Linked DNA regions of Homo sapiens. The protein of the gene in region 1 interacts with the protein of each later gene in a biochemical or structural test. Each region holds a gene or a part of one and is shown on either strand. Other genes may lie near its edges.

Evidence for each region.
Region 2: of the proteins of CSNK2A1 (region 1) and HMGA1, one has a biochemical effect on the other in vitro, tested with the Homo sapiens proteins (2 studies listed by BioGRID and IntAct).
Region 3: of the proteins of CSNK2A1 (region 1) and MDC1, one has a biochemical effect on the other in vitro, tested with the Homo sapiens proteins (2 studies listed by BioGRID and IntAct).
Region 4: of the proteins of CSNK2A1 (region 1) and CSN2, one has a biochemical effect on the other in vitro, tested with the Homo sapiens proteins (2 studies listed by BioGRID).

Annotation. Positions count from the first base shown.
Region 1 is NC_000020.11:471,453-478,658, forward strand, and holds the end of CSNK2A1 (casein kinase II subunit alpha), read right to left. Parts: 3' UTR 1,046-7,206; downstream 1-1,045. UniProt on the Homo sapiens protein: Catalytic subunit of a constitutively active serine/threonine-protein kinase complex that phosphorylates a large number of substrates containing acidic residues C-terminal to the phosphorylated serine or threonine.
Region 2 is NC_000006.12:34,232,663-34,239,872, reverse strand, and holds the start of HMGA1 (high mobility group protein HMG-I/HMG-Y), read right to left. Parts: upstream 3,001-7,210; 5' UTR 2,992-3,000; coding exon of another isoform or gene 2,910-2,991; exon of another isoform or gene 2,670-2,909; coding exon of another isoform or gene 2,556-2,669; intron 2,459-2,555; coding exon of another isoform or gene 1,493-2,458; intron 1,083-1,492; exon of another isoform or gene 916-1,082; intron 1-915. Other genes in the region: translation initiation factor IF-2-like, read right to left, coding at 1,493-2,458, 2,556-2,669, 2,910-2,991, 3,143-3,298, 3,617-3,627. UniProt on the Homo sapiens protein: HMG-I/Y bind preferentially to the minor groove of A+T rich regions in double-stranded DNA. It is suggested that these proteins could function in nucleosome phasing and in the 3'-end processing of mRNA transcripts.
Region 3 is NC_000006.12:30,706,733-30,715,145, reverse strand, and holds part of MDC1 (mediator of DNA damage checkpoint protein 1), read left to right. Parts: coding exon 1-106; intron 107-962; coding exon 963-1,343; intron 1,344-1,428; coding exon 1,429-1,498; intron 1,499-1,791; coding exon 1,792-3,272; intron 3,273-3,419; coding exon 3,420-3,479; intron 3,480-3,641; coding exon 3,642-3,734; intron 3,735-6,788; coding exon 6,789-7,580; intron 7,581-7,691; coding exon 7,692-7,762; intron 7,763-8,413. UniProt on the Homo sapiens protein: Histone reader protein required for checkpoint-mediated cell cycle arrest in response to DNA damage within both the S phase and G2/M phases of the cell cycle.
Region 4 is NC_000004.12:69,961,991-69,970,769, reverse strand, and holds the start of CSN2 (beta-casein isoform 1 precursor), read left to right. Parts: upstream 1-5,041; 5' UTR 5,042-5,089; intron 5,090-8,779. UniProt on the Homo sapiens protein: Important role in determination of the surface properties of the casein micelles.

The DNA.
Region 1 (7,206 bases):
GTTCACACAATTTATCAAATTCTGCCCTCCAGAGGAGGTACTGACTGGCCTTTAAAGTTGTTTTAGCTAGCACTGACCAGTCCCATGGGGTGATATGGAAGTTGTCTGCTATGGTTTCAATTATTCCTTTTGTAAATGGGCTAGTGGCTCCGTTTAATGCTTTTTCTTACCACTTTATAAGCGTCAAAAGAAGTTGTCTGCTATGGCTTCAATTATTCCTTTCATAAATGGGCTAGCAGCTCCATTTTCTTTAACGTTTTTTTCTTATCTCTTTATAAGCGTCAAAAGAAATGGGTTCATATACCTGATCGCCTTGTCGATCTTGCATTACTGGGCAGGCTAAGAGCTCCCCTTCTGATGCCGCTTGGCTAAGACAGGGTCCCAAAGCTGTAGTGTATCCCTTGTCTTTTTCCAATTTATTGGAGGAGGGGGCTCAGGCAAAACCTCTGTTTCCTCTTTGTTATTTTTGCCTGTTAATGGCTGGGCTGAGGGAGAAGGAGGAGACGGTAGGGTAGGTGACGGTTCCATCTCCCTTACTTTTTTAGGCTTTTCTGTGTAGAGTGGGACCAAAGCAGTCCTAACTAAAGCCCATAACGTTAAAGATGTTACTGAGACCCATTGCCCTTGCTCATGATGTTAAAATTTCTTCCCAGAGCTCTACGTCTAGTGTACCTTCTTCCGAGAGCCATGGGTTATGGGAAACAACAGTTTGCATTAGGTCCCATAATTGAGCCTGTCTGAGGCTCTGCTAACTTTCAGCATTTGTTTTACTACTTTTATATACTGTTGCTGTTGAGCTGACAACTGTTGTCCCATGATGACAACTGTCATCCCATGATGATCGTCCCTAGCTTGAGCAATTCCTTTGAACTTGGAAATGCTGAACAGGCACCAATGACTTACTGACTGCGCAGTCTCTTCACCTTCATTTTCGAGGGTTCCGTCGTGATCTGTTGCAGCATTCCTCACACAGGGAATCACCTGCCGAGTCTGTCCCACAGACTTTGGCCGAGTGACAGATGAAAGGAGTACTCAGACACAGATATTCAGTGAGAGAGCAGGCTAGGGGACTGCCAGCACTAGGGGCCGAAGAGAGTTAGCAGTCCCCTTAAGCTGGTGGCCCTCACATTTATTTAGCACAAATTTAATGACAAAGGCTTGGAGCAAACACAATTTGTGGGCAATAAACATTGTCAACATCCCAAGTAGACAGCAGTCCTGTGTGTGAATGATCAAAGGTTGGTTTCTGGACACAGGAATAAACAAATTTATCTAGGTAAGTTCCTATACAACTCCCCTGTTATCTGCCCTTTGCTCTCAGGCTTCAGATAAGAATTTGGCTGCCTTCAGCCATAATTTCTTTCTGAAGCTTTTGCAAAACCTCTCGGCCTTCCAAGAAGGTTTGTGTCTTTCCTATAATTTCTCCCACCACCCTGACCAATCTCCTACAAAGGCTGAAGCAGGAGGATTGCTTGAGCCCAGGAGTTTGAGGCTGCAGTGAGCTGCGATCACACCACTGCACTTCAGCCTGGGCAACAGAGCAAGACCTTGTCTCTAAAAAGTAAATAAAAAAAAGAGTTGGGCTAGGTTTGAGGTTTATTGTTGCTATGGTTACCCCCAATGCAGCAGCTTCCAGTTCCTCCAATGACACCTTGGACTGAGGGTGCAGGCTGGCCTGCCAGAGGGATTTTCTCCTTCCATGTGTGCTCCCTGCTCAGCTTTAGGTCCTCCCTTTGTGACCCTCAGAAAGGGTCTTCTTCCCATACTCTTGTCTCTCTCCTGTAACATTTTTACTTCTAACTCAAGGCTTGTCAGCTTACCATTGGCAGGTGGGGGAGGAGGGAATTCTCTGTTCTGATCAAGTCTCAGTCTCTGTCAGGCCCTTTGTGTCTCTGATTTTGGGGTTATGTCCTCCTTAGTGCTCCTGTTCCTCCCCCAGTTCTGGGCCCAGTGTGTATTCCTGCCCCTGCCCAGGGAAAGTTTTGTTTTGTTCCTGTTTCATTCCCCCAGATGCAAGGGAGCTTCATCCAAGGGGGTGACAGGATTTGGTGTCCTTCCCTCCACAGACTAAGGCTTTTGTCCGGTAGGGGATACAGGGAAGGGTCTGGGTGGAGCACTGTGATCCTTTCACAGTAGCTGCCATTGTCTTCTTCCAGATCTTGAGACATTTTATTAAAACTTTCTCCAATCTTCTGTGTGCTCCCAGTGGGGTTCATGGTGAAAAACGCTGAAAAGGGTAAAGACTACTGCAGTCTCCATGACCCAGTCCCTCACCAGTGTCCACTTGTGTTTACCAGGTAACCAGTGCCCATGTCATCTCTTCCATTTTGTGCCTGTCTCTCCTTAGATTTGAAGCCAGTTGATTGTCTTCTGATCTCAGCTCTCCAGAAGACCTTTTCCAGAAGACCTCTCCCTGTGTATCCACTTCTAAACCAGTCACAACTGCCCGAGTCTCACAGCAGCATGGTGGATATCCCGCTGTCCCTCAAACTGGGGCTCTGTCAACAAAGAGGAAGGGAGGAATGACTCCCTTGGGAGGAGACAACAACATTGCAAGTGATCTAGTCTTTGAAAGGCTTTTAAGCAAGGGACTGAGATAAAATTTATTTATTATTTTTAAGAGAGAGGTTCTCACTCTGTCAGCCAGGTCTCACTGAGAGCAATGTGATCATAGCTCACTGCAGCCTCCAACTCCTGGGCTCAACGTATCCTCCCACCCAGCCTCCCCAGTAGCTAGCACTATAGTCACACACCACCACACTAGTTAATGTTTTCATTTTTTGTAGAACAGAGGACTCGCTGTGTTACCCAGGCCTCAAGTGATCATCGGGCCTTGGCCTCCCAAAATGCTGGGGTTATAGATATGAGTCACTGTGCCTGGACTAGAATATTTATTTTTGAAAGATCTTTGGTTGCAGGTGTCAGATGAATCAGGAATTGAGACGAGATGGGAAGGCATCAAGACCAGTTATCTGCTATGATACTCCAAGCAAGAGAGGATGGTGGCTGGGATGAGGAATTTGGCAACGGGAATGGGAGGAAGTGGATGCATTCAAGATAAATATCCATTTATTAAAAGTAGTTGCTTTTTCACCAGAGTAATACATAAATATAGTTTTAAAAGTAAATACTGCTACTATCTTAACAATAATTTAAAAAATCTCAAAATAACATGCAACTGTTTGATTTTTCAGTTTTAGGCATTAGTTCCCCTTATAAATGATGAGAGTTTAGAGCTTAGACCGCTTGTCCTGTTACCAACACCACCACACATGCCAGCATTTCCCATCACTCCTCTTTCCATTGTCATCATACTGTAATCCTGGTTAGACCAGTATTCAGTGTTTCCATTATGACTACGTAAATTCTAATCACAGCTGAACCAGCAGTATGATATTTAGTTTTCCCTCCTTTCATAACTTTTCCCATTCCTGCTGAGTTAATACTTTTTTGGCTTGTCTTACTCTGCTCAGTTTTCATTTTGTAAACTTTTAAACATTTGAACTCTAGCAAATATACTGAGAAGTGCCCCAAACGTAAATGGAGAGTTTAACAAATAATTATAGAGCAAATACAACATTTAGGTACCACCCCAATAAACACAACACCGAGGACCCCCAGAAGCACCCTGTGTATAGTGGAATGTTGTGTTGTTTCTGGCCATGGAGTCTCAAAGACTGATTCTCAATTTTTGTTGCTTGAAAACAAGTAAACAAGTATTCTCAGCCGGGCACGGTGGCTCACGCCTATAATCTCAGCACTTTTGGAGGCCGAGGCAGGCAGATTACTTGATGTCAGGAGTTCCAGACCAGCCTGGCCAACATGGTGAAACCCTGTTGTTTTGTAAAAATACAAAAACTATCTGGGTGTGGTGGCATGTGCCTATAATCCCAACTACTTGGGAGGCTGAGGCAGGAGAATCGCTTGAACCTGGGAGGTGGAGGTTGCAGTGGGCTGAGATCATGCCACCGCACTCCAGCCTGGGTGACAGAGTTAAGACTCTGACTCAAAAAAAAAAAAAAAAAGTTGGTGTAATCCTTTCCACACACACATATATATATACATAGATGTTATATGTGGTTGCCTTCTGTTCCTACTGATATATATGAATAGTATGGCTGATTGCATTATTGGTTTGTTTCTTCATTCCCCTGTAATAAGACTAAACATACACACCCTTTGCCATATAACCTCATAAAGTTTTCCCAACACAGGCTCTATGCTTCCCTACTGCACTGATGTTGGGCTTGGCTATGTGATTTGCTTTCGCCAATGGGATGATGGTGCTTGTGACACAGCAGAGGCTTGAAATGTGCTTGTGTGATTCCATTTGGTCTCTTCTAAGTTTCTGTGATTCATGAGAAGAGCACGCCCTGAGTAGCTGCTGCAACTTCTGCCACATTGGGCAAACCTGAATCCAATTCACATGGAGGTGTCCAGCCCAGCCGACCCACAACCTGAAAAACAGCTGCTTGGGCTGAACTTGATCTAGATCAGCTGAACTACATACAGTTGCCTTAGAAATTTGTGAGACTAAGACTAGACAGAGAACAAAAGCAAAAGAAAGAAAAAATTTGTCTGCAATGACTGGCTAGGAACCTGGACAGATTCCTGGCAACATAGCTGTGCAAAAGCAGCCCCACAAGCAAAATTGAGCCAGGAGACAGGGTTCTGATCCCAGGCATGGGCCTTGGCAGCTGAAACTTGTTAGGCTGGGCCTCTCCCTCGCCAGTTCAGGCAGCCCCTCCTCTGAGGCCTCATGGACCATTCTCTCTTCTCCAAGACTTCAAGATTCCTTCCTAGTGAGTTTTTCTTTTTTACTTTTAGATGGAGTCTGGCTCTGTCACCCAGGCTGGAGTACACTGACGTGATCTCAGCTCACTGTAACCGCCACCTCCCAGGCTCAAGCAATTCTCCTGCCTCAGCCTCCCAAGTAGCTGGGACTGCAGGCACACGTCACCAAGCCCAGCTAATTTTTGTATTTTTTAGTAGAAACAGGGTGTCACCATGTTGTTCAGTCTGGTTTCAAACTCCTGACCTCAGGTGATCCACTCGCCTTGGTCTCCCAAAGTGTTGGATTACAGGCGTGAGCCACCATGCCCGGCACCTAGTGAGTTTTTCTGTTACTTTTTTTTTTGGAGGCGGGGTCTCCCTATGTTGCACAGGCTGGAGTGCAGTGGTGAAATCATGGCTCACTGCAGCCTCAACCTCCTGGGCTCAATTGATTCCTCCATCTCAGCCTCCCAAGTAGCTGGGACTACAGGCATGCACCACCATGCCCAGCTAATCTGTGTATTTTTTGTAGAGAGGGTTTCATCATGTTTCCCAGACCGGCCTTGAATTCCTGAGCTCAAGTGAGTCGCCCGCCTCCACCTCTCAAAGTGCTGAGATTACAGGTGTGAGCCACTGCACCCAGCCTGTTAAATCTTTTTTTCAATTAATAACAACTTCTTTTACAGACAGGGTCTCACTCTGTTGCTCAGTCTGGGGTGCAGTGGCACTATCATAGCTCACTGCAGCCTTGAACCCCTGGGCTCAAGTGATCCTCCTGCCTCAGCCTCCAGAGTAGCTAGCACTACAGGCATGTGCCACCACATCCAGCTAATTTTTAATTTTGGTAGAGACAGGGTCTCCCTATGTTGCCCAGGCTGGTCTCCAACTCGTGGCCTCAAGCAATCCTCCTGCCTCAGCCTCCCAAAGAGCTGAGATTACAGGCATGAGCCACCACGCCCAGCTTCTGTGACTTTAAAAAAATCTTTTTAGACAGGGTCTTGCTCTGTCACTTGGGCTTGAGTACTGTGGCACAATCACACCTCACTGCAGCCTTGACTTCTTGGGCTCAGGCAATTAATTCTCGTCCTTTGGCCTCCCCAGTAGCTAGGACACAGGCGCACACCACCACACTCAGCTAATCTATTTTTTGTAGAGGTGGGTTTTCGCCATGTTGTCCAGGCTGGTCTGGGACTCCCGGCTCCCAAAGTGTTCCAACCACAGGTGTGTGGGCCTTCCGTGGTATCTTAACCTCATCACCCAGAGGCAACAACAGCTAGTATTCTTCTAGTTTTTACCACCCCCACCACCTCAATCCTGCCCCTGTAGCCTTTCCAAGTGCCACAGCATTGTTTCAGTTTCTATCTTAGAAAGCCCGGGAGTCTGTGTCCTATCTCCCTGGGGGCATTCAAACCCTAGTCCATAGCCTGAGGCCCACCTATACCCAGACCCAGTGTCTTGGAAGCACTGACTTTAATACCCACTTAGGCTGGGCGCAGTGGCTCACGCCTGTAATCCCACCACTTTGGGAGGCTTGGGCGGGCGGATCACCTGAGGTCGGGAGTTCGAGACCAGCCTGACCAACATGGAGAAACCCCGTCTCTACTAAAAATACAAAATTAGCTGGGCGTGGTGGTGCATGTAATCCCATGCCTGTCTCAAAAACAAAACAAACAAACAAAACAAAACAAAACAAAAAAACCCCAGTTACATTCAGGATGAATTCTGCCTTCCTTTTTGCCACCTTGGGATTTCCATTTCTTTCTCTGAAATAGGCATTTGCATTTTTCCTAGGATTTTTTTTTTAAAACAGTTGGAATTATCCCATATACACAATTTTTTCACTTTTCTAATTAACATACATTTCCCCATGGGCTTGTGTCTCACCTCTCAATCCCCAGTGTATAGCAAAGACCAGGCTCAGGGGCACTTACAAATGTTTGTTGAAACCAAAGACATCCTATATTACAGAAATGAACTTTGGAAAGACCAGTCAGCGTGGGTGGGTGAGGAATGCCAGAGACGGGAGAACAAAATGAGGTATACCGTCAGGTTTGAAGGGTTGAGGGTTATGGAGGGTTCTTCATAGGAAGTTCACCATGGAGTTCTTGGAACTGTTCAACACACAGAAGCAAGGTCCTCTCCTTCTAGGTATGGCTAGAAATGTTTATCAATAGCTGAGACTCTGATTCCCAGGGTGGGATCAGGAAGCCAGCCCCAGCTGCTGCAGCATTTTTTTCCCTTTTTCTCATTACAGGAGCCAAGAAAACTGTCAAAGCAGATGATGCAAGAGTGAAGCTGACTCAGAAATACTCAATCCCCCCAGGAACTTCTCTAAGAAATGGACTGACCATCCTGTAAGCTTCCATCTGGAGGTACCTGGGGAAGGGCTTCTCACATTGAGGCCAATAAGAATCCCTAGTGGGCCAGGTGTGG
Region 2 (7,210 bases), on another chromosome or scaffold:
AAAACCTTCTTGGTCATTTTCTAGCATCTTCCTTCTTCTTAGAGGCCTGTTGGGGTTTAATTAACCCCATCAATTTTGAGTTTTCCTAAAACTTCTCATTGGAAGGAGGGCCTGCAACCTGTATTTGGGAATACCCTGTATTACAGGCTTAAAAAGGACAGTCCTCCACATCTTCATCCTAGTCCTTATCCCCAGGCTACAGATGGATGAGACGCCGGAGGCCTAGGCTACACATTTTTCCAGTAACCAATCCCTGCCTGCCATGGTAAGGGGTGGGACAAGCGGCTCCACTTCTGAACCCCTCTCAATCTGTAAGATCAAGGTAATTATAAGGTACCTGCCTGAACTACCTCCTGACTGCTTCAAGGATCAAACTAGGTAATAGTTTAGAAAAACTTAAAATAATAGAAAGAAATCTTCACTCTAACCAAAATAAGAACTAGACCATTTGAAAATGATTTATGGGCCAGGTGAGGTGACTCATGCCTGTAATCCCAGCACTTTGGGATGCCAAAGCAGGAGGACTGCTTGAGGTCAGGAGTTCGAGACCAGCCTGGACAATACGGTGGGACTCCCATGTCTAATTTAAAAGAAAAAAAAAAAAGAAGAAAAAGAGTTTTTACCCCAATGAGAGGAAAAAAACATTTTTGCAAACTTGTGATTTCTAGAGGGCCCAGGACCTCCATTTTCAAGCATCAAGAGACCCTCCAGACAGCAGGACTTTGGTAATTATTCTATCTTATAATGTTTCAGACTTGGAGACCCTTTTAAACAAGGTGGTTGGTGATTTATCCTGCTCCGTCATTAGTGGCTTGGCCTGCTCTGCAATTACAGGCAGTGATTAGAATCTTATATTACACCACAGGTCCCCCTTCAAACTAAACATCAAAATTAATCAACTAAACGAGTGCTGACCTCATATAAGGTCTGCCTGGGGCCCCCTCATCGAGGGGGTTCCAGTTGGGCGAAGCCAGTCCGGAATCCCAGAGAGCCTGGCCCGGCCTGCCTGGAGATCTTGGCGGGTCTCCCTGGAAGCTCTCATACCATCTGGTGCCTCCCCCCACCTCTTGCTGCTGGGGACCCTTTAATCCCCTCAGCCAACCCCCCACGAACTAAATGAAGGCCCGAGGCCCTTTCCAGTGAGGCCAAGAAACGTTCGTCTTTTCCACCTGTTTCTGAACATCAGAGGCCTGTCTTGGAGGAACTACATTTAGGGCCTAACCCCAATCCCTCACTTTGTAATAAGCCCGCTTGGGCCTCAAGCCTGTCTCCTCCATACACTGTGCATGCAAACTGTGCTCCTCAAATACTTAAGGACTCTGCAGGAAAGGCCCTAGGAAATTATCTTGGGGGTTCCCTTGTTTTCTTCCCCGTCCCCCGTAAAAAAGTAGCCCAGAGAAGCCTTGAGTTGCCTAAGGTCACACAGCAAGTTGGCGAGCAGGAAGAAGTAGGTTCCCGGAGACCCTTTCAACCCGACACTTTGCCTACCCGCCTAGCGGCTAGGGCTAAACCCCCGAGGCATCAGGCTCCAGACCCGGCCCGAGGGTGACTCTGCAAGTGTCTGCGCCCGGCCGTTGCAGGCCGGCCGGCGGGACCCGGGGCCAGGGCGCGCGGGGGGAGGGGCGCAGGCCGCTCCTGCAGGCGCGGGAAAGCAGCGCACCCCGACCGCATGCACCGCCACGCGGGTGCACCCGGCCCCACTTCCTGCCAGAGGGGGCACCCAAGCCCGCCTTGGGGCAGGAAACCTGGCGCGCGCGGGCGCGGGGGAGAGGAAGAAAGCCCCCTCCCTCCGTCCCCTCCCCGCAAAATAAAGCCCCAGAAGAAAATAAAATAGAAACGGGGAGTCAAAGGGACTAGTTCCAACAGAGCCCAGCAAAGCAGCGAAACCAGTTTGTGGGGGCGGAGGGCAGGCCCGGCCCCTGGGGCTGAAGAGGCGCGGGCCAGGCCAGAGGTGGGGTCGGGGTGAAGCCCCAAACCCAGGCCCGCGCTCCGGCCTCATCTGCGGAGGGGGCGCGAGAGAAAGGCCGAGAGGGCGTAGGGCCGAATTTGGGGGTTCCTCCCCATCTCCCTCACTTCCAGAACTTCCCTGAGCTGCGGGGGGCGCCCGACCCCCCACTCTCCTGCCGCGCCGCAGCCCGTGTCTCTCCCCGCCCCTCACCCGGGCCCGGGCTCGGGCTCGGGCTCCGGCTCCAGCGGGAGCGGCCGCCGCGCGAGGTGCGCCGGGCTCCTCCGGGCTCCGCCGGGTGCACAACTCGCGCTCGCCGCAGCTGCGCGCCCCCTCCCCCACCGCGCGCCTTTCCCGGGTCCCCGCCCCCCGCAGGGCGCCCGCGGCGCGGGGGAAGGGGTGCGGGCGTCCTCCCCGCGCCGCCGGGCCCCGCCGCCCGCCCCCGCGCCGCGCGGCCCTCCCCCGCCGCCGGCTCGCGCCGCCCCGGCCTGGGAATAAAGCCGGCGGCGCGCGCTGCAGCCCCGGGCGGCTCGCAGGAGGGGCGACGTGCGGGCGGGGGCGCGGGCGCCCCCCTCCGCCGCCGCCGCCGCGGGCCCCGGGGACGACTCACCGCGAGCTCGGCCGCCGGCCTGCGGTGCGCGCTCCGGGTTGCCGGGAGCGGCGGTGCTGGGCGCTGAGGACCGGCCTGGCTCCGCCGCGGCCGCCGCTGGTAGCAAATGCGGATCTGAAACCGGGAGAGAGCAGAGGCGCTCAGAGACCGCCGCCGCCGCGTGCTCGCCGCCCAGGCCCCCGCGGGGTATTTATGTGTCACAGCCAGGCGGGGGGACAAAAATATTCCCCCTCCCCCGAAGGATGGCGAGGGGCAGGAAGCTGGGCACGGCCCGTGCGCGGCCTCAATAAATAAATAATTTAATTAAATTATAGATATAAAAAAAAGAAGCCACCGGAGCGGCCGCGAACTCACGCCTTCTTGGAGCCGCGCCAGCGCCAGAAATAGCCCCGGCTCGGAGTCCCAATTAGAGGAGCGCAGCACCGGCTCAGGGGAGCTTAAAAAGAGCGACCCAGGGGCAGGGGGGACGGGCCCGCCCGCGCCAGCCGTGTCACTCAGGGGGCGGGGCCATGCAAATGAGCCCGGGGATTTAAAAGGGCGGCCGCCCGCCAGCCGCCGCCGCCGCTGCCGCGCGGGTGGGTGCTGACGGCAGGGAGGGGCGTGTGGGAGGCCTGGGCTGCGAACTCGAGTCGACCGCCCACTCCTCGCAGTCCCGGACGGAGGAGGTGTGGGAAGGCACGCGCAGAGGAGTCACGAAGGAGCTTCTGGCGGGGGGTGGTGACGGGTGGCGGTATCCTTCCTCCCTGGTACAGGGGTCCCAGGGAGAGTCACCTCTAGGGGCTTCCAGGGCGTGTGGGCCCGGCCCCCCCCCCAGGGCGTGTGGGGGTGGACGGGGGTCCACGCGGGCCCAGGGGGTGAAGAGAAACGCGCTCGTTAGAGAATTCCGCGGCCTACACGCCGCCCCCTAACTAAAATAGAGAGATGGTAGATTTCCCCTGGGCGGACAGGTGTCAGCATGTGCCTTTCAGTGTCAACCCGCGTGTGGCTGATTGGTGAGATACAAGTCTTGTGAAATTCAAACGTGAAACTTGTGAAATCCAAAGTGTTTTATTAATGGCCACCAGCGAGCCATGATCAAGGTGGAGCCTTCCAGCGAAACCAACGATTGGCTCGTTGGCAGGTACACCCAAGGGAGGCTTCATACCTTGAGGTGACTTAGATGGTGTTCTGGAGATACGCAGGCCCACTTGGGGACCTGGGCCCTTCCGTTGGGACTGTAAATAAAAATAAAAGGTGGGCCAGAGGTCGCCTGGAAGCGCTTTGAGGGCAGGGGCCGAGCACGCAGGCCATCTCCGCCACGCCTGGCCCGCCCGGCGCCCGGCTTAACAAAGACTTGTTGCACCGAGCGAGAAGGAAGCCAAAGGGGAAGATGGCGGGGAGGGCGGTGGGGGAGGAAAGGGCGCAGGCGGAGCGGCGCGCCCTGCAGGCCGGCCCGGGGCCTTCTCGGGCGCACCTCCCGCGCCCGGTCCCCGAGGCGGCCTTCCACACCTCCTGTGATGCAGGGAATTGAAATGCGCTCCAGTGACACACGGCTGTGACTCATGTTTTTCTCTGCTCCCCTTCTTCCTCCCCGGTCAGCCGAGGCCCTGGCCCAGCCCCCTCCTCAGGGGGCGAGCCGGCGGTGGAGGGGACGCAGGAAAGCCCTGGGCCCGGCGCGGAGGCGGGGTGGGGAGCGGCGGGCTGGGCCTTGCAGTTGCAGGAATGTGGCAGGAATGTTTCCGGTGGGGGTGGGGAGCGGGCGGGGGGTGGGCCCAGCCCCCACCCGTGCGGCGGGAAGCGCTCGGGGCCCGGGCAGCACGTGCTTGACCGGGTGGGGGCGGGGGCGCCTGGGCGGGAAGGCGCCAGGGGCCGGGAGCGCGGGTTCAAAGGGGAGGGCGCGGGCCTGGGGCCGGCTCGGCCTAGGGGTGGGCCCGGAGGCCGCCCTCTGCGCGCCGGCTCCCCGCCCCACGTCCAGGTGAAACGCAGTTCCTGAGAAGTCCCGGGGCCGCCCTTGGAGGGGAAAGGAAGTCACCAAAGGGCGGCCCGAGGGGAGGGGAGCAGAGGGCGGCGGGGCCCGCGAAGAAGGCTGGGGGAGGGGCGGCCTGCCCCTTTGTCTGGTGGGTGGGGGTGGGGCGGGTGGATCGCGCCGCTCCCTCCATCTTTGTGCCCTGGGCCCGGAGCGCGCGCTTAGTAGGCCGTGAGTGGTGGTGGCTGGAGGGCGTTCGGTTTCGAGCGCGGGAACCTCTGCGGCGTGGCATGGAGGCGCGATTCCTCAGCCTCCAGCACCCCGTCCCAGGTCACAGGCTCCCCGCCAGCACCTTGGGACCCAGGTCTGGGCTCGGGCTGCCCCCCAGAGCCGCGCGCCCCTCCACTTCGCGCTCTCCAAGGCCGCGGAGGCTGCTAGGCCCGGGCACCGGGCTGGCGGCCTGGCGGCTGGGGAGGTGCGGAGAGGGTCCTGTCCGCCCTCTCTCTCGGGTACATCTCTCCCCGTCCGTGTGGGACGTGTGGCCGCCCCTGAGACGGGGAGGGGAGAGGGACTTCCGCCTCGAGTGGGCTGTGGAAAACTTGGCCAACTTTTTGGCCCACTTGTAGCAAGCCGACTCGATCTTATTTTTCCTACTCTTATTTTCCTCTCGGCCTGATTTCCTCAGCGACTTGTTTTTTACCTTGTATTGTGTGTATTTTTGTCAGCCACCTCAAACCCTTTCTGGAAGGAGGCAGGTATAAATAAATTCGTAGGCAAATAAATATAGTAGCTTGTTCCTCTCCAGGATTACCCACACCCTTGAAATCCAAATAACTCTCTACTCACTGACCCCCACCTCCACGCTTTCTGGATTGTCAATGCCCTGAATTCACTGTCTTTCCTTTCTTTCCCCTTTAAATAAGTATTAAGCAGAAGAGCGAGTGGTAGAGATAAAAAGATGGGTAGGATCTAGTCCTTGTCCCAGCGAATTTCACGTCTAGGGAAATCAGAATCAGGCCTGCACTAGAGAAAACTGAATAGCAGTACAGGAGATGCCATGTTAGAAAACATTTCATTCAGTAGTTATTGAGAACCTACTCTGTAGCAGGAACTGGGCCAAATTCTTGGGGTACAATTAATGAACAAAGTCCCCTGCACTCTTGAAACTTGGACCAAGGGGTCAGGCGCTTACAGACTTAGGAGGAAATACAGGAGGAGAGGATGGGAGCCCAGGGTGGTCAGGGAAGTCCTGGAGGAGACGGGCTTGAGCAGGCCTTCGTGAGACTTGGATAGGTGGGTGGCTGAGGAGTTGGGGACAGGGCAAGCAGGAAGAGGGAGCTATTCCAGGCCAAGGACATGGTCAAGGCCCGGGGGGTTGAGTTGGTCGATACCAGAACCCGTCTTCCCCACAGGAAGCATTTTCTGTTATTGGAGTCAGTCTATACAGTTTGCTCAAGGACGACCCAGTGAGCTTCAGTGAACCCAATGGGAATGTCCAGGGAATGGGGAGTTTGAGTCAACTTTATATTTTGGGACGCTGACTCTTAAGCTCATTTTCTAGATGAGTAGGTGAAAAAACTAATGTGGATGGTTCCATTTAGTTCTATTAAGTATTCAGCTTGATGCATTTTCACAAAGTGAACACCTTTGTGTCACCAGCATGCAGACCAAGAAATACAACATCTCCAGTACCCCTGTGTAACCACCATCTCAACTTAAGCAGCGCTTCGTTTCACCTGTTCGTGCACACGTAGGGATATGGAGTCTTACATTATGTATTCTCCTGGGTTAGTTTCCTTTGCTTACCCTTATGTCTGTGAGGTTCATCCATGCTATTGTGTGTGGCTGCAGAATGTTCATTCTCAGGGCTGCTTAGTGATGTGATATGAATGTACCACAATTTTATATCCATTCTGTTGAAGGACATTTGGATAGTTTCTGGCGGGGGGCTATTATGAATAGTGCTGCCATGAATGTTCTAGAATATAGGTGAGTAGATGTGCAAATTTCTGTTGCGTACGTGCCTAGGAGAGGAATTATTGGATCACAGGATGTGTATGCTCAGCTTCAGCAGACGAGCAGGGCACTTCAGAGTGAAAGCGGCACTATTAATACTTATGGCCAGACAACAGGCATAAACCTGACCTGGCCCCTATCAACCAGGACTGACCCAGGCCGGTAGGAGGTGGGGCTACCCTGGTACACAATGTTTGACCACTCTCCTCAAGAGTCACCCAGCTACTAGTGCATCTGGTCATCTGGCAGGATCAGGCTTCCAGGCTCTGCTGACCACAAGTTCTGCTGCCAGCAAGGCTGGCAGGCCTAGAAGGGGAGGAGGGCCTCTGCTGCTTCCAACTTTCGAGGGAAAAACTCTCAAGTGAAAAGGAGGGCCCAGGAATCAGGGCCCTCTCCGCCTTCCTACTGTGAGCTAATGACCCACCTTGCATGGCCCCAAGATGCCATGGACTTGTCAGCTTACTTCTTCAGGGCTAAATCCCCAAGGAAGCCCAGCTCCTCTCCAACCCCTGAAGAAATCTAAGGAGAGAGTGGAGTTGATAAGCATATACTGAATGCACATGTTCTCTCAGATCCTCCACATCCCTACTGGTGAGTGATACTGTTGCCCCATTTCACAGGTATTAAAACCAGGTCTTGGCCGGGTGTGGTGGCTCAAGCCTGTAATCCCAGCACTTTGGGAGACTGAGGTGGG
Region 3 (8,413 bases), on another chromosome or scaffold:
GTTGAAGAAGAGGAGGAGACAGAGCAATCCAGTGAATCCTTGAGGTGTAACGTGGAGCCAGTAGGGCGGCTACATATCTTTAGTGGTGCCCATGGACCAGAAAAAGGTCAGAGGGTATTGGATGTTCAAGTATTGATATAGATCTTTTATTTTTGTGGTAAGGTATTTGGAGGGTTGCAAGAAGCTTATGTATGTTTCAATGAGATGTGAATTTTTTTTTTTCATGAATGGAAGAGATGGGGCCGATTGAGTTGATAGTTGCAGACTACTACCCTGGACTCACTGGAAGTGATTTTACTTTGATAAAAGAAAATTAAGAGATTGAAATGAAGCTGGGTGCAGTGACTCACACCTGTAATTCCCGTGCTTTGAGAGGCCAAGGCAGAAGGATCACTTGAGACTAGGAGTTAGAGACCAGCCTGGGTAGCATAGCAAAACCCTGTCTCTACGAAAAATTTAAAAATTAGCCAGGTGTGGTGGTTCATTTCACATCTGCAGTCCCACCTACTTGGGAGGCTGAGCCAGATGATCACTTGAACCCAAGAGTTCAAGATTGCACTGATCTATGATCATGACACTGCATTCTAGCCTGGGTGACAGAATGAGACCCTGTCTCAAAAAAAAAAAAAAAATCAAATAAAATCCAATTGTGTGCTCTGGAGATGGATGGTAGTGATGATTGCACAACAGTGTGAATGCACTTAATGCCACTGAACTATACACTTAAAATTATTAAGGTGATACATTTTGTGTTATGTGTATTTTATAACAGTAAAAAAACATCCATTGTGGATGGATGGGGTATCGCATATACTCTTTCAGTGCCTAGATGTCCTAGGGCCTTTTATTTTTCTAATGCATATGGAGGCCTTGAGTGAGTAGTAGAGTACCTAATAGGCACTTTTTCCTAATGACAGGCCAGGACTCTGATCTTGGAGCTTATCTACCTCTCTAATTCTTAGATTTCCCACTACACCTCGGGAAGAATGTGGTAGGCCGAATGCCTGACTGCTCTGTGGCCCTGCCCTTTCCATCTATCTCCAAACAACATGCAGAGATTGAAATCTTAGCCTGGGACAAGGCACCTATCCTCCGAGACTGTGGGAGCCTTAATGGTACTCAAATCCTGAGACCTCCTAAGGTTTTGAGCCCTGGGGTGAGTCACCGTCTGAGGGACCAGGAATTGATTCTCTTTGCTGACTTGCTCTGCCAGTACCATCGCCTGGATGTCTCTCTGCCCTTTGTCTCCCGGGGCCCTCTGACAGTAGAAGAGACACCCAGAGTACAGGGAGAAACTCAACCCCAGAGGCTTCTGTTGGCTGAGGACTCGGAGGAGGAAGTAGGTAAGTTTGTATATTGGCAGGGAGAATGAGGAGACAGGAATAATGAGTGTACAATTGTCAACTCATTCCTTTCTGTTCTTGACAGATTTTCTTTCTGAAAGGCGTATGGTAAAAAAATCAAGGACCACATCTTCCTCTGTGATAGTTCCAGAGAGGTGAGTGCCAAAGAGTCAGACACCTGAGTCTTCAAAATGAGGAAGAACCAGGGGCTGGAGGATCAATCTCTAAAAGAGATGATTATCATGAGAGTTGGGGCTGGGGAACCATACATATTCATTCACTCAGCTGAATTTTTATGGAGCACATCTGATGTGCCAAGTGGAAAACAAATTGGAAACAGAAGAAGAAATATGCTACCTTGTGTCTCCCCTCAAGGAGCTCACAGTTGAGTTGGGGTATCCCTTCCAGGGAAATAAATTCTATAGACTCTCTTTTCTTCCCTTCACAGTGATGAAGAGGGGCATTCCCCGGTCCTGGGCGGCCTTGGGCCGCCTTTTGCCTTCAATTTGAACAGTGACACAGATGTGGAAGAAGGTCAGCAACCAGCCACAGAGGAGGCCTCCTCAGCTGCCAGAAGAGGTGCCACTGTAGAGGCAAAGCAGTCTGAAGCTGAAGTTGTAACTGAAATCCAGCTTGAAAAGGATCAGCCTTTAGTGAAGGAGAGGGACAATGATACAAAAGTCAAGAGGGGTGCAGGGAATGGGGTGGTTCCAGCTGGGGTGATTCTGGAGAGGAGCCAACCTCCTGGAGAGGACAGTGACACAGATGTGGATGATGACAGCAGGCCTCCTGGAAGGCCAGCTGAGGTCCATTTGGAAAGGGCTCAGCCTTTTGGCTTCATCGACAGCGACACTGATGCGGAAGAAGAGAGGATCCCAGCAACCCCAGTTGTCATTCCTATGAAGAAGAGGAAGATCTTCCATGGAGTAGGTACAAGGGGTCCTGGAGCACCAGGCCTGGCCCATCTGCAGGAGAGCCAGGCTGGTAGTGATACAGATGTGGAAGAAGGCAAGGCCCCACAGGCTGTCCCTCTGGAGAAAAGCCAAGCTTCCATGGTTATCAACAGCGATACAGATGACGAGGAAGAAGTCTCAGCAGCGCTGACTTTGGCACATCTGAAAGAGAGCCAGCCTGCTATATGGAACAGAGATGCAGAAGAGGACATGCCCCAACGTGTGGTCCTTCTGCAGCGAAGCCAAACCACCACTGAGAGAGACAGTGACACAGACGTGGAGGAGGAAGAGCTCCCAGTGGAAAATAGAGAAGCTGTCCTCAAGGATCACACAAAGATTAGAGCCCTTGTTAGAGCACATTCAGAAAAGGACCAACCTCCTTTTGGGGACAGTGATGACAGTGTGGAAGCAGATAAGAGCTCACCTGGGATCCACCTGGAGAGAAGCCAAGCCTCCACCACAGTGGACATCAACACACAAGTGGAGAAGGAAGTCCCGCCAGGGTCAGCCATTATACATATAAAGAAGCATCAGGTGTCTGTGGAGGGGACAAATCAAACAGATGTGAAAGCAGTTGGGGGACCAGCAAAGCTGCTTGTGGTATCTCTAGAGGAAGCCTGGCCTCTGCATGGGGACTGTGAAACAGATGCAGAGGAGGGCACCTCCCTAACAGCCTCAGTAGTTGCAGATGTAAGAAAGAGCCAGCTTCCAGCAGAAGGGGATGCTGGGGCAGAGTGGGCTGCAGCTGTTCTTAAGCAGGAGAGAGCTCATGAGGTGGGGGCCCAGGGTGGGCCACCTGTGGCACAAGTGGAGCAGGACCTCCCTATCTCAAGAGAGAACCTCACAGATCTGGTGGTGGACACAGACACTCTAGGGGAATCCACCCAGCCACAGAGAGAGGGAGCCCAGGTCCCCACAGGAAGGGAGAGAGAACAACATGTGGGTGGGACCAAGGACTCTGAAGACAACTATGGTGGTAAGTGCTGGCCTTCCTTCCTAGACCTCTGAAATCAACCAGGGTTCTAACAGCTGGGGTTGGGGAGAGAAAGGTAGAGATTATTTAAGGAGTTTAGTGTCAGGTATGATTTTTGTTTTAAACTGTCTTATATTCCTCCCCGACCAGATTCTGAAGATCTGGACCTACAAGCTACCCAGTGCTTTCTGGAGAATCAGGGCCTGGAAGGTGAGGACTTCTGTGTTATTTGAATCCTGTACCAGTGGGAGCTGGGAGATTAGACTGGTGGTCCTTGAAGGGTAAAGGCTAGTATGGGTAGGGTAGGAGACCAGGAATGGAACCCTACAGTAGTATGGAGGAGATGAACTTAGGCCATCTTTTCCTGTACAGCAGTCCAGAGCATGGAGGATGAACCTACCCAGGCCTTCATGTTGACTCCACCCCAAGAGCTTGGCCCTTCCCATTGCAGCTTCCAGACAACAGGTATAAGAAACTCTTCCCTCCTCTGTGTCCCCAATTCTGCATTCTCTTTTTTTTCCTCTGTCACTCAGGCTGGATTACAGTGGTGCAGTCTCGGCTCACTGTAACCTCCGCCTCCCAGGCGGTTTCTCTTCCTTCAGCTTCCCAGGTAGCTGGGATTACAGCTGTCCATGACCATGCCTGGCTAATTTTTTGTATGTTTAGTAGAGACAGGGTTTCACCATGTTGGCCAGGCTGGTCACAAACTCCCGACCTCAAGTGATCCGCCTGCCTCGGCCTCCCAAAATGCTGGAATTGCAGGCGTAAGCCACTGCGCCCGGCCTGCGTTCTTTCTTGATTTGCCTTCCTACATGTTTCTTTCATACTCTGATTACAGTGAGCCCTCTGTGTATGCGAGTTTGCGTCCGTGAATTCAACCAGCTGCAGGTTGAAAATATTTAGGGACTGGCCTGGGCAACAGAGAGAGACCTGGTCTCCACAAAAATGAAAAAATTAGCCCAGCATAGTAGTGAGCACCTGTAGTCCCAGTTACATGGGAGGCCAGGATGGGAAGATCAGTTGAGCCCAGTCTGGGCAATAGCCCATCCCTCAACCCCCACCCCCAATGTCTCTTAAAAAAAACACACACACACTATTGCAGCACTGTTCACAATAGGCAGATATGAAATCAAACTAAATGTCCATCAACAGATGAATGGATAAAGAAAATGTAGGCCGGGGTCGGGCACAGTGGCTCACACCTCTAATCCCAACACTTTGGGAGGCCAAGGCAGGCAGATCACCTGAGATCGGGAGCTTGAGACCAGCCTGACCAACATGGAGAAACCCCGTCTCTACTAAAAATACAAAATTAGCCGGGTGTGGTGGTGCATGCCTGTAATCCCAGCTACTCAGGAGACTGAGTCAGGAGAATCCCTTGAACCCAGGAGGCAGAGGTTGCAGTGAGCTGAGATTGTGCCATCGCACTCTGGCCTGGGCAACAAGAGTGAAACTCTGTCTCAAAAAAACGAAAGAAAAGAAAATGTAGGCCGGGCACAGTGCCTCATGCCTGTAATCCCAGCACTTTGGGAAGCCGAAGTGGGTGGATCACATGAGGTCAGGAGTTTGAGACCAGCCTGGCCAACATGGTGAAACCCTGTCTCTACTAAAAATACAAAAATTAGCTGGGCATGGTGGCAGGTGCCTGTAGTCCCAGCTACTCGGGAGACTGAAGCAGGAGACTCATTTGAACCCCGGAGGCAGAGGTTGCAGTGAGCCAAGGTCACACCACTGCACTCCAACATGGGCAACAGAGTGAGACTTCATCTCTAATAATAAAAAAAAAGAAAATGTGTATATAGGCTGGGTGCAGTGGCTCAAAATACAAAATTTAGCTGGGCATGGTGGCATGCACCTGTAGTCTTAGCTACTCGGGAGGCTAAGATGGGAGGATTGCTGCCTAAGACGCAGAGGTTGCAGTGAGCTGAGGTCATGCCACTGCACTCCAAACTGGGTGACAGAGCAAGACTCAATCTAAAAAAAAAAGAAAATGTGTATATATACACAGTGGAACAGTATTCAGCAACAGAAGAGAATGAAATCCTGTCATCTGCAGCAACATGGATGAACCCTGAGGACATTATGTTAAGTGAAATAAGTCAGCACAGAAAGGCAAATATTGTATGCTCACTCATGTGGGAGCTAAAAACATGGATCTCATGGAAGTAGAGAGTAGAATGGTGGTTACCAAAGGCTAGGAAGGGTAGAGGGACAGAATGCATAAAGAGGTTGGTTAATGAATACAAAAATCCAGTCAGATTGAATGAATAAGTTCTAGTGTTCAGTTCCACAGTAGTGTTACTATAGTTAATAATTTATTGTGTATTTCAAAATAGCTAGAAGAGATTTGATATGTTTCCAAGACAAAGAAATGATAAATGTTTGAGATAGTGGATATCCCAATTATCTTGGTTTTATCATTGTACATTGTATGCATGAGTCAAAATAGCACAGGTACCCCATAAATATGTACAATTATTATGTGTCAATGAAGAAAAAAGAAAATGTGGTATATATACACAGTGGAATACTATTCAGCCTTTAAAAAGAAGGAAATTCCAGCCAAGCATGGTGGCTCACACCTGTAATCCCAGCACTTTGGGAGACCAATGTGGGTGGATCACTTGAGTCTAAGAGTTCAAGACCAAACCCCATCTCTACAACAAATACAAAAAATTAGCCGGGCACTTTGGCACATGCCGTAGTCCCAGCTACTTGGGAGGCTGAGGTGGGAGGATCTCCTGAGCCCAGCAGTTGGGAGTTGCAGTGAGCCAACATCATGCCACTGCACTCCAGCCTGGGTGACAGAGTGAAACTGTCTTGAGAGAGAGAGACTATTCAGGGAACTCTCTTATTAGGCTATGATGTTTTTCTTTCTTTCTTTCTTTCTTTCTTTTTTTGAGACAGGGTCTCTGTCACTCAGGCTGGAATGCAGTGGTATGATGAGAGACTATTCAGGGAACTCATATTAGGCTATGATGTTTTTCTTTTTCTCTTGGGTTTTTTTTTTTTTTTTTTTTTGAGACAGAGTCTCTGTCACTCAGGCTGAAGTGCAGTGGTATGATCACAGCTCACTACAGTCTTGACCTTTGGGGTTCAAGTAGTTCTCCTACCTCAGCCTCCCGGGTAGCTGAGACTACAGGACTACAGGTCCCCGTCCCCACACCTAATTTTTTTGTATTTTTTGTAGAGATGGGGTTTTGCCATGTTGTCCAGGCTAGTCTCAAACTCCTGGCCTCAAGCAATCCTCATGTCTTGGCCTCCCAAAGTCCTGGGATTACATGTCTGAGCCACCATGCCCGCCTAAGGCTATGACCTTTTTGAGACAAACGTTAAATGTTATAACTACCACCCTTATTCCCAGCTTACCTTTAATAACCTGTTCAGATTTATTATTCATGAGTTTATCTAAATCCTTTCTCATCATATTTATTATGTCAACCTGTACTTCCCTTTCCCTCTTCCTCTCCCTCTTTTCTCTCCCTCTCCCTCTCTCTCTCTTCCTTCCTCCCCTTCCAGGTACCCTAGATGAACCATGGGAGGTCCTGGCTACACAGCCATTCTGTCTGAGAGAGTCTGAGGACTCTGAGACCCAGCCTTTTGACACGCACCTTGAGGCCTATGGACCTTGCCTGTCTCCACCTAGGGCAATACCAGGAGACCAACATCCAGAGAGCCCAGTTCACACAGAGCCAATGGGGATTCAAGGCAGAGGGAGGCAGACTGTGGATAAAGTCATGGGTATACCAAAAGAAACAGCAGAGAGGGTGGGCCCTGAGAGAGGGCCATTGGAGAGAGAAACTGAGAAACTGCTACCAGAAAGACAGACAGATGTGACAGGAGAGGAAGAATTAACCAAGGGGAAACAGGACAGAGAACAAAAACAGTTGTTAGCTAGAGACACCCAGAGACAAGAATCTGACAAAAATGGGGAAAGTGCAAGTCCTGAAAGAGATAGGGAGAGTTTGAAGGTAGAAATTGAGACATCTGAGGAAATACAAGAGAAACAAGTACAGAAGCAGACCCTTCCAAGCAAAGCATTTGAGAGAGAAGTAGAGAGACCAGTAGCAAACAGAGAGTGCGATCCAGCCGAGTTAGAAGAGAAGGTGCCCAAAGTGATCCTGGAGAGAGATACACAGAGAGGGGAGCCAGAGGGAGGGAGCCAGGACCAGAAAGGGCAGGCCTCCAGCCCAACACCAGAGCCTGGGGTGGGGGCGGGGGACCTTCCGGGACCTACCTCAGCCCCCGTACCTTCTGGGAGCCAGTCAGGTGGAAGGGGATCCCCAGTGAGCCCCAGGAGGCATCAGAAAGGTAAGTGAAGGCAGAGGGGAACCCAAGGTGATACACAGGCCTCGTGATAATCAACCCCTGGGCAACCAGCTGCTTGGAACTCAGCCACCTTTGTGTTTACTTTCTGTCTAGGCCTCCTGAATTGCAAGATGCCACCTGCTGAGAAGGCTTCCAGGATCAGAGCTGCTGAGAAGGTTTCCAGGGTGAGAGCTACTTTTTCTACCTCCTATTCCACAAGTCATCTCTATATCTTCTCCAATGCTCTTTCACCTAGCCTCACTTTAATCTATTCCTTTCTCATTATTCAGTTTTCTTCCATTTTTGTCACGCCTTGATTGGCTTCTATTCCTTTATCCTCGGCACCCGTTGTTTTCCATATCTGTTTCCTAAGTTGTATCTCCTACCTGACTCAAAAGAAAGACCCTTCGTGTTTCTTCTTTCTTTGCCCCAGCCATCCTTTTCCTTACCATCATCCACGTGTGGAGAACACTATAGTAGCATTATGGAGACAGGTCTGTGGGAAAAAGGTAGCTTCCCAGGTAGATCCCAGTCTAATGGAGGAGAGATCATAGACAGAAAGGAAAATCCAGTGAGCATATTTTTTGTTTTTGTTCTTTTTTGAGACAGAGTCTGTCTCTGTCACCCAGGCTGGAGTGTGCAGTGGCGTGATCTCAGCTTACTGTAACCTCCGTCTCTTGGGTTCAAACAATTTTCCTGCCGCAGCCTCCCAAGTAGCTGGGACTACAGGCGCATGTCACCCGGCTAATTTTTGTGTATTTTTTTGTTTTTTTTGAGACAGTCTCACTCTGTCACCCAGGCTGGAGTGCAGTGGCGCGATCTTGGCTCACTGCAAC
Region 4 (8,779 bases), on another chromosome or scaffold:
CTGACCTTGTGATCCGCCCGCCTCGGTCTCCCAAAGTGCTGGGATTACAGGCGTGAGCCACAGCGCCCAGCAGAAAATAACAATTATTAAATTGTTCATTGTGAAAGCCTGGGTTGCCCCACATGACATTTTGCTTATTTGTCATTGGGTTCTGATGCTTACTGGGCTCTTAGCACCTGGTTTTATCTTAAACCTCTGGCTTTTCAATTTTTTCTTAGGCAAGCCTCTTATTCTAGTGCTTTCCTTAATCATAGTTTTGCCCACTTTTCTGGGCTAATCAAGTCTGTAATTATACTGATTAGTGTGACTAAAAATTGATGAGCATTACAAGGCTATGTTATATTTATTGCACAATGCATAAAGCATTTTTCTAAGAAAAAACAAATGATATATAGAATGGACAAGGCATGCTTGTTTTTGTATTACTTTCTTAGAAACCTTAACTTTGTTGCCTGTGGCCTTGGCAACTCAGAGCTAAACCACAAAGCCACATTGGGTAGCTAGGGCCTTTCCTATTTGGACTTAGGACGCTGGAGTAATTTCATCATTTCTTTTCCTGGCTTCCTCCTGGCTCAGTATGAACATAAAATGAATATCAGCTGAACAATTCAAATGTATAGTAGACATTGACCTGGGTTTTCTGAGAAATATGAAATATATGTGACAATCAGGAGTGTCCCCCTCATTCATAGATCTAGGATGATATTAATGCAAGGTATATTATAAAGAAAAATAGTTATGTAGGTCTATACTCAGCTTATTTAATTTAGAAGGGCATCTATTTGTGCTTAAGTCCTGAATATATCTGTCATAGGCAGTAAATAGAAAAAATAAAAATTATAAGAATGAGTAACATCCAACACAGTCAGCCAAACACTTATGAATAGCAATCACTAAAGAGGCAAGGAAATTTGTAGACTTATTTTGTAAATGGGCACAACTCAAGTATTTTGAAGCCTACCTCAGTCTCTACTTTCGTACTTTGACCAAGACCCTGCTCTTTTCTGGGATTCAGTATTCTTTTTTGCCTCAATTTTCTGTACTTTCATAAACATTAGCAATCAATATTTACCTACTGGAAAACCAAAACAAAAACAAAGAACGTGAGCTCAAACTTGGTCAGTTTCATTTTAATAAATGTGTACCTGTATCATTTGTTCTCTAAAAATAGCCATTCTCTAAATGTTACTGTCCATCTTAAATTCTTCAATAGATCCCTCCATCTGCAGAATAAAATTCACATTCCTAAGGAGCAAAGCATGCTTTGTCCATCGTCGTCTGATTGCTTTCTCTTTTTGTGTTCACATTTTCATCCTCTCTCTTCCTTGAACTTCATTATCCAGGTTCACTACTTGATTTAGTTCTAGTTACTTGTTTCTCATATCCAAGACTACAGTCTTTAACTATTTTTAGCTAGAATTCTCTATCCTCCTCGATTAACTGCTTTATCTGGCTTCAAGATTCTGCTCAGGACTCATGGCCTCATGGAGATTCTATTTTCCTCTCCCATGAATCAACTAAAATGAACTAAGTATTCTCCTTCTGTCAATTGCACCTTCTTACTGCTTTATTAGCATATTCCTTACATGTCGTAACAAGTAGATTTTTATGTCTGTTTTCCCACGAAGGTTTTGACCTCCTTGAGGTCAAATGTATCTTTTATTTTTCATTTCATTCTGGATAATTTAGGAAATGCCTGCAAACATAGATATTTAATATGAAATACATTTTCCTCTAACAAACTTTATGTTCACCTATTTTCAGCATTCTGAATGTATGGCTATTCCTTGGATCTAGTCATCATACAGAAATTCTCTTCTTTCTAATGCTGAAATTCCCAAATGAAAAAATCTCTGTTTTTGTACTTCTCAAAATTGGTATCTTCTTAGGCCAGGTCTTTGCCTTTCTTGCCATCTCTAGTCATTCAAGCCCTCTTTTTAGTATGTTAGCTTAAACAATACCTGATGGTTTGCCATTTTTAACACAAACACTAATAATCCCAACCCTATCCTAACAATTCTCTTAACCTATTGATACTAAATCTCCGCCATCTTGCCATACAACTACTTAGATAAAAAAATCTGATATATAATCTCATATAAGTCATAATTATTGCTCGTGGATTTGTTATTCATTTTCATTTTCACATTAACCAAAAATTTCTGCTCTTTCAAAATTACATATATTTAAGATGTACAACATGATGTTTTGATACTTATATAGTGAAATGATTACTGTAGTCAAGCAAATTAATATGTCCATCACCTCACATAGGTTACTCTTTTTATCTTGTGGTAAGAACATCTAAAATCTACTTTCAGCAAATTTTTATTATACAATAAAATATTAATGATTATCATCCTCACACTGTACATTACATGTCTAAACTTATTCATCCTACATAACTGCAGCTTTGTTTCCTTTGACCTACATCTCCTTATCTATCTTCCACCCTGAACCCCTGATACCCATCCTTCTACTCTTTGTTTCTATATATTCAATTTTTAAAACAAGATTCCACATATAAATAACATTGTGTAATATTCGTCCTTCTGTATCTGGCTTAGTTGACTTAAAGATTCAACTATGTATAACCATGTCCTTCAATTTCAGTTGAGAACTCCCCCTTTCACCTCACTAGAACATTAAGACCATTTAACTTCAACTTCTCTACCTTTTATCTCAAACATGTATTGTATCTACTTATCTTCTTATTCCTTTTTGTTTTCTTAGGAAAACTGGTACATTTTTTATAGGTCTTATTCTTTTCTCCATGACTGTACAGGAACTTGTTCCATTAATTTACTCCCACTTCTTTGGTATGTTTCAACTCTTTCCTTATTGGCCTCTTTCTTGTAAGCTACAAGTCTTCCTTACCCTAAAAATACCTTCCCGTGGTTCTGATTATCCCTGTACACCTAGTCACAATCTTACAGTTCTCCTTATCTCCTCTTCTAAGTTTCTCAGAAGGGCAGTACACATATGTTACTTTTAATTCCTCACAAATTACTTACTTCTTAACCATTTGGAGTGTATCTCAATCAGCTGTGTAGCATTTCACTGTTGACCTCACTTGCTTCCTCTAGCAATGCAGGATATCAAGGAGAGGAAGTGGATTCTGTACTCTCTTATTCTTGATATCGCAGGTTTTTTTTTTTCCTATTTCCTTTTGCTATACCAGCCCCTGTAAAAGAAAGGATACTTGAATTTTGTTTTGTACAATTTCTTTTCTCACTTGATACTCTTTCCCTAGAGACCTTCACTTACTCCTTTGAAGGGAGAAATTACCTTTAAAAATTATACTCATGATTATTTCTTGAGTATCACATTTAATTTAAAACATCTTCTGGACACCTTCAAATTTACCACGTACAAGGTTTTACTCAGTGTTTCATTTCTAATTTCAGCCTGGTTTCATATTTTGATTTATAACATGGCTAACTTTTCAGTCACTCAGGCATAATATATTAATTCATTTCCCCAATTTTTCACATTTCTCGTATTTTAATGAGAAGTTTGTCTTTTTATTGCCTAAGATGCCCAGGACCATTTCCCTACTTGAGATCATCATAATGTCTGTCTTAGGCTACTGCAATAACATAACATAACAACTTCCTTTACTAGGTTACCTGATTTGTTGTCATAAAGTCATGAAATCCAAGAAATTTTACAATCCATTTTTCTTTCAAATCTCTAATATATTTGCTTCCACTGAATTATGTCACAGTGCATGCCTGACATTCACAGTCATCCATGATCTGATTCTATCAAACCTCTGCAATTGTAACTTGCAATGTATGCCCTCTGAATATCCTCAAACTGGTATGTTGCTCTTTCAGTTCCTGTGTTTTCTTCAGCCAAAATATCTATCCCCATTTAATCATCTCGCAAAATTCTACTCATTCTCTAAGGCTCAACTAAAAGAGCAGTTCCTTAATGGCAAGCTCCCCTGCCACACACAGCACAGAGGCCCTACTTTTCCAATTCAGGCATAATTAAATTGTACATATTTCAACCAAATGCTACATTGATAGATAAATTTTATAAAAAATTATCAGAAGGTTAAAACATGGGCTCTGAGACTCACATGTGATCAAACAGAATCACATGTAGTCAGACAGATCTGAGTCCAACTGGTATCTTTGCCATTAACAATATGGTTTTGAGCAAGTTACTTAACCTTTTGGCATCTCTGTTTTCTCAACCTAAATATGAAGAGGAGAGCTACCTCATGATGTTCTTGTGCAGATTATACAAGATAATATCTTTGCTTAGTGCTTGGCAAAGGGTTAGAACTAAGCAAAAAAACCCATCATTAATATTATCATAATTATGCTTGACCTGAAAAGAGATAATCAATATTAAAAGGTAAATAAAACTCCGTGATACTTTGCAAAATTTTTATTACAGATTTACTGAAGATTTTGCCTATACCAGCCACCCAGATTCCCTCTTCAAGTTATTCCATTACAGAGGAAAGTTTATTTATCTTGTGTACAAAATATTTGTTTTAACTAAATTATTTTTTTTTCCAAATCAAGTGGCCCTGGGAGAAACAGTTTGCCTCACATAACTAAGCTACCATCATGGACTTGTTATCTTGTCAGTTTCTTCATTTCAGCATAAAGCACTAACAACTGCTTAGGTTCACATGAAACTGTGGCCTTTGTGAAGCCCTGTGTATATCTAGCGTTCACATACAATTTTCCCACAACTGAAATCTCAAGGCCCCACTAGGCCCTAAAGAGACCTAATTATGTCCATAATAACTTGGGGACAGGGCCAGAGTATCACTGTCCTCCAGTCATTGTCTTTTGTTATTGAATAATTGCATTTCCTGGACAGGTTTCTTTTATCAACTTGTGAATTGTTCCCTTGTTATAATGATGCCCAGAATTTCTGGGGATATGTAATAGGCAGAAATCATTTTCTAATCATGTGGACTTCTTGGAATTAAAGCTCGCTATTGATCTTATTTCAAATCACAAAATTAGTGTGTCATTAAATATAGTATATAAACAGTCACAGAAGCTGATGGACCATCATCCATCCAGCACTACCTTCACTTCTCTTCAATCTTGGAAAAACGGTAAGAATTTTAGATACAAATTTGTTGTATCTTCTCCTAACCATGTATTTCAAAGTAGCTTGAGCTATAGAAGGAACGTAGTTACTTAAAATATAGTGTTTGAAATAAAAGTATTTAAGGTAGTACTGAGATTATTTTTAACACTTAGGCTAAAAAAGATAGAAGTGCCCAGAAGAATTTGGTAATGACATATAGCCTTCATGAGTTTAAGAAAATATAATAGCTAATTTTATGCATATATATATATATATATATATATATATATATATATAGTATGAGGCTAGTTCATAGTTAATATTAAAAGGAGATTCATTTTTTTAATTAATCTTCCAATTTGATTTAGCATATCACAGTTATAAAAAGAATTATACTTCAATTATAGTATGGGTAGATAAATAATTACTGGAAAAGCTTTGTCCAGCAGGTAGTTTACAGCAGTAGCATACTGAGTTGAGAAATGGAGGGAATGGTATGGGGGCATTTACTACTTTAAATGTTTATAAACAATGTTTTTAGAAGAGTTTACTCATCAAACTTGTCTAGAGCCTCAAACTTCCCAGTTTATTATCTAGTTTGTAATATTTCAAAACAATATTAAAATGAGACAGAAATACAGAATTAAGTAAAAAAGAAACAATGTGGTTTACTTTGTAAGAAAATTCTTAATGGGGTAGAAAAGACTTGGAAACCATAAACAAAGATAATAGATGATATAAAAGAAAAAGTAGCTTAGAGTGTACCAGTTGATAATGAAGCTCTGGCTTAAAAATTAGTATATAAAAGTATACCAGTATGTAGTATATTTATAGTATAGAAATGAGTATAAAAACTAGTATAATTAGTATTAGTATATATTAGTATATTAGTATATAAATTAGCATTGTAATTATACATTCGTATATAAAATTATTATATATATTAGTAGATTAGTAATAAAACTAGTAAAGTTTATATTACTTATAAAATATAGAAAATGCTGTGGGATCTTCCCTATGTGTAATTATATATAATAGAGTGTTATATTCTGTTTCTGAACCCTGACATAAAAATTTGGGAACTTATAGTGGTCTTAGGCAAAGTAAAATTAATAAAAACTTAATTAACATTCATAAAAAATCTAGAAAAAATATTTGTTTTCTGTAATAGAATTATGTTCAACCTTCAAATATTGAAAAGAACATCTCTCAAATAAATTAAAGACTTTTTTGATGAAGTATTTTAGTTCAAAAATTTAGTTCAAAAATTGAGTTTCAATATCTGAGAATGAAGATTTGAGTGGTGAGTAATATTGTGGCACAAACATTATTTTGAAATAAATTACAAAAAAATGTAAGAACACATAACAAGGAGATGATTTAGTATATTTTGGTCAAAAATATTAACATATATTTCACAAGAAGAGGTAGTCCCAAGCTTAGCAGTGGGCAAGAGGCTCTGACCCCTTGGCGGATCATCAAGAGAATCGTGTGTACATTTCAATAAAGAGAAGAGAAGAAGCCTAGTGTACAATATCTAAAGTCATGTGGCATAAAGGAGAACAGACATTATTAGCTATGTGGGGAAGATGAATATAAACGGAGAAGAAACAAACTCAATAGTCCAATAAAGTCTCTGGATAGTGACACAAATAAGGAAAGTGTTAAAATGAAAACCTCAGTCTTATTGGAAATGAGGAGAAATAAACTAAAATAGTCATGGTAACCGTTTAGTGAAAAGAAAAAAGGTAAAAATAAAATGTGACTTTTTTGTACACATTTTCTTGATCAGTCTCTTCCAGTAGAACTGAGGCTCCATGAGGGAGTAATATCAGGACTGTAATATTTTGTTCATTGCTGCGGTCCTGGTCCCTAGACAGTGTCTGGCAAGAACAGATTCTAAAGAAATATTTTTAAGTTAATGAATAAATCTTTTTTTAAATTTTATTTGTCTTTTGAAATTATTATTATTATACTTTAAGTTTTAGGGTACATGTGCACAAAGTGCAGGTTTGTTACATATGTATACATGTGCCATGTTGGTGTGCTGCACCCATTAACACGTCATTTAACATTAGGTATATCTCCTAATGCTATCCCTCCCCACTCCCCCCACCCCACAACAGCCCCGGTGTGTGATGTTCCCCTTCCTGTGTCCGTGTGTTCCCATTGTTCAATTCCCACCTATGAGTGAGAACATGTGGTGTTTGGTTTTTTTGTCCTTGCGATAGTTTGCTGAGAATGATGGTTTCCAGCTTCATCCATGTCCCTACAAAGGACATGAACTCATCATTTTTTATGGCTGCATAGTATTCCATGGTGTATATGTGCCACATTTTCTTAATCCAGTCTATCATTGTTGGACATTTGGGTTGGTTCCAAGTCTTTGCTATTGTGAATAGTGCCGCAATAAACATACATGTGTATGTGTCTTTATAGCAGCATGATTTATAATCCTTTGGGTATATACCCAGTAATGGGATGGCTAGGTCAAATGGTATTCCTAGCTCTAGATCCCTGAGGAATCGCCACACTGACTTCCACAATGGTTGAACTAGTTTACAGTCCCACCAACAGTGTAAAAGTGTTCCTATTTCTCCACATCCTCTCCAGCACCTGTTGTTTCCTGACTTTTTAATGATCGCCATTCTAACTGGTGTGAGATGGTATCTCATTGTGGTTTTGATTTGCATTTCTCTGATGGCCAGTGATGATGAGCATTTTTTCATGTGATTTTTGGCTGTATAAATGTCTTCTTTTGAGAAGTGTTTGTTCATATCCTTTGCCCACTTTTTGATGGGGTTGTTTGTTTTTTTCTTGTAAATTTGTTGGAGTTCATTGTAGATTCTGGATATTAGCCCTTTGTCAGATGAGTAGATTGCAAAAATTTTCTCTCATTCTGCAGGTTGCCTGTTCACTCTGATGGTAGTTTCTTTTGCTGTGCAGAAGTTCTTTAGTTTAATTAGATCCCATTTGTCAATTTTGGCTTTTGTTGCCATTGCTTTTGGTCTTTTACACATGAAGTCCTTGCCCATGCCTATGTCCTGAATGGTATTGCCTAGGTTTTCTTCTAGGGTTTTTATGGTTTTAGGTCTGACATGTAAGTCTTTAATCCACCTTGAATTAATTTTTGTATAAGGTGTAAGGAAGGGACCCGGTTTCAGCTTTCTACATATGGCTAGCCAGTTTTCCCAGCACCATTTATTAAATAGGGAATCCTTTCCCCATTGCTTGTTTTTGTCAGCTTTGTCAAAGATCAGATAGTTGTAGACATGCGGCATTATTTCTGAGGGCTCTTTCCTGTTCCATTGGTCTTGGTATCAGTTTTGGTACCAAGTACCATGCTGTTTTGGTTACTGTAGCCTTGTAGTATAGTTTGAAGTCAGGTAGCATGATGCCTCCAGCTTTGTTCTTTTGGCTTAGGATTTACTTGGCAATGTGGCCTCTTTTTTGGTTCCATATGAACTTTAAAGTAGTTTTTTTCAATTCTGTGAAGAAAGTCATTGGTAGCTTAATGGGGATGGCATTGAATCTATAAATTACCTTGGGCAGTATGGCCATTTTCATGATATTGATTCTTCCTACCCATGAGCATGGAATGTTCTTCCATTTGTTTGTATCCTCTTTTATTTCCTTGAGCAGTGGTTTGTAGTTCTCCTTGGAGAGGTCCTTCTCATCCCTTGTAAGTTGGATTCCTAGGGATTTTATTCTCTTT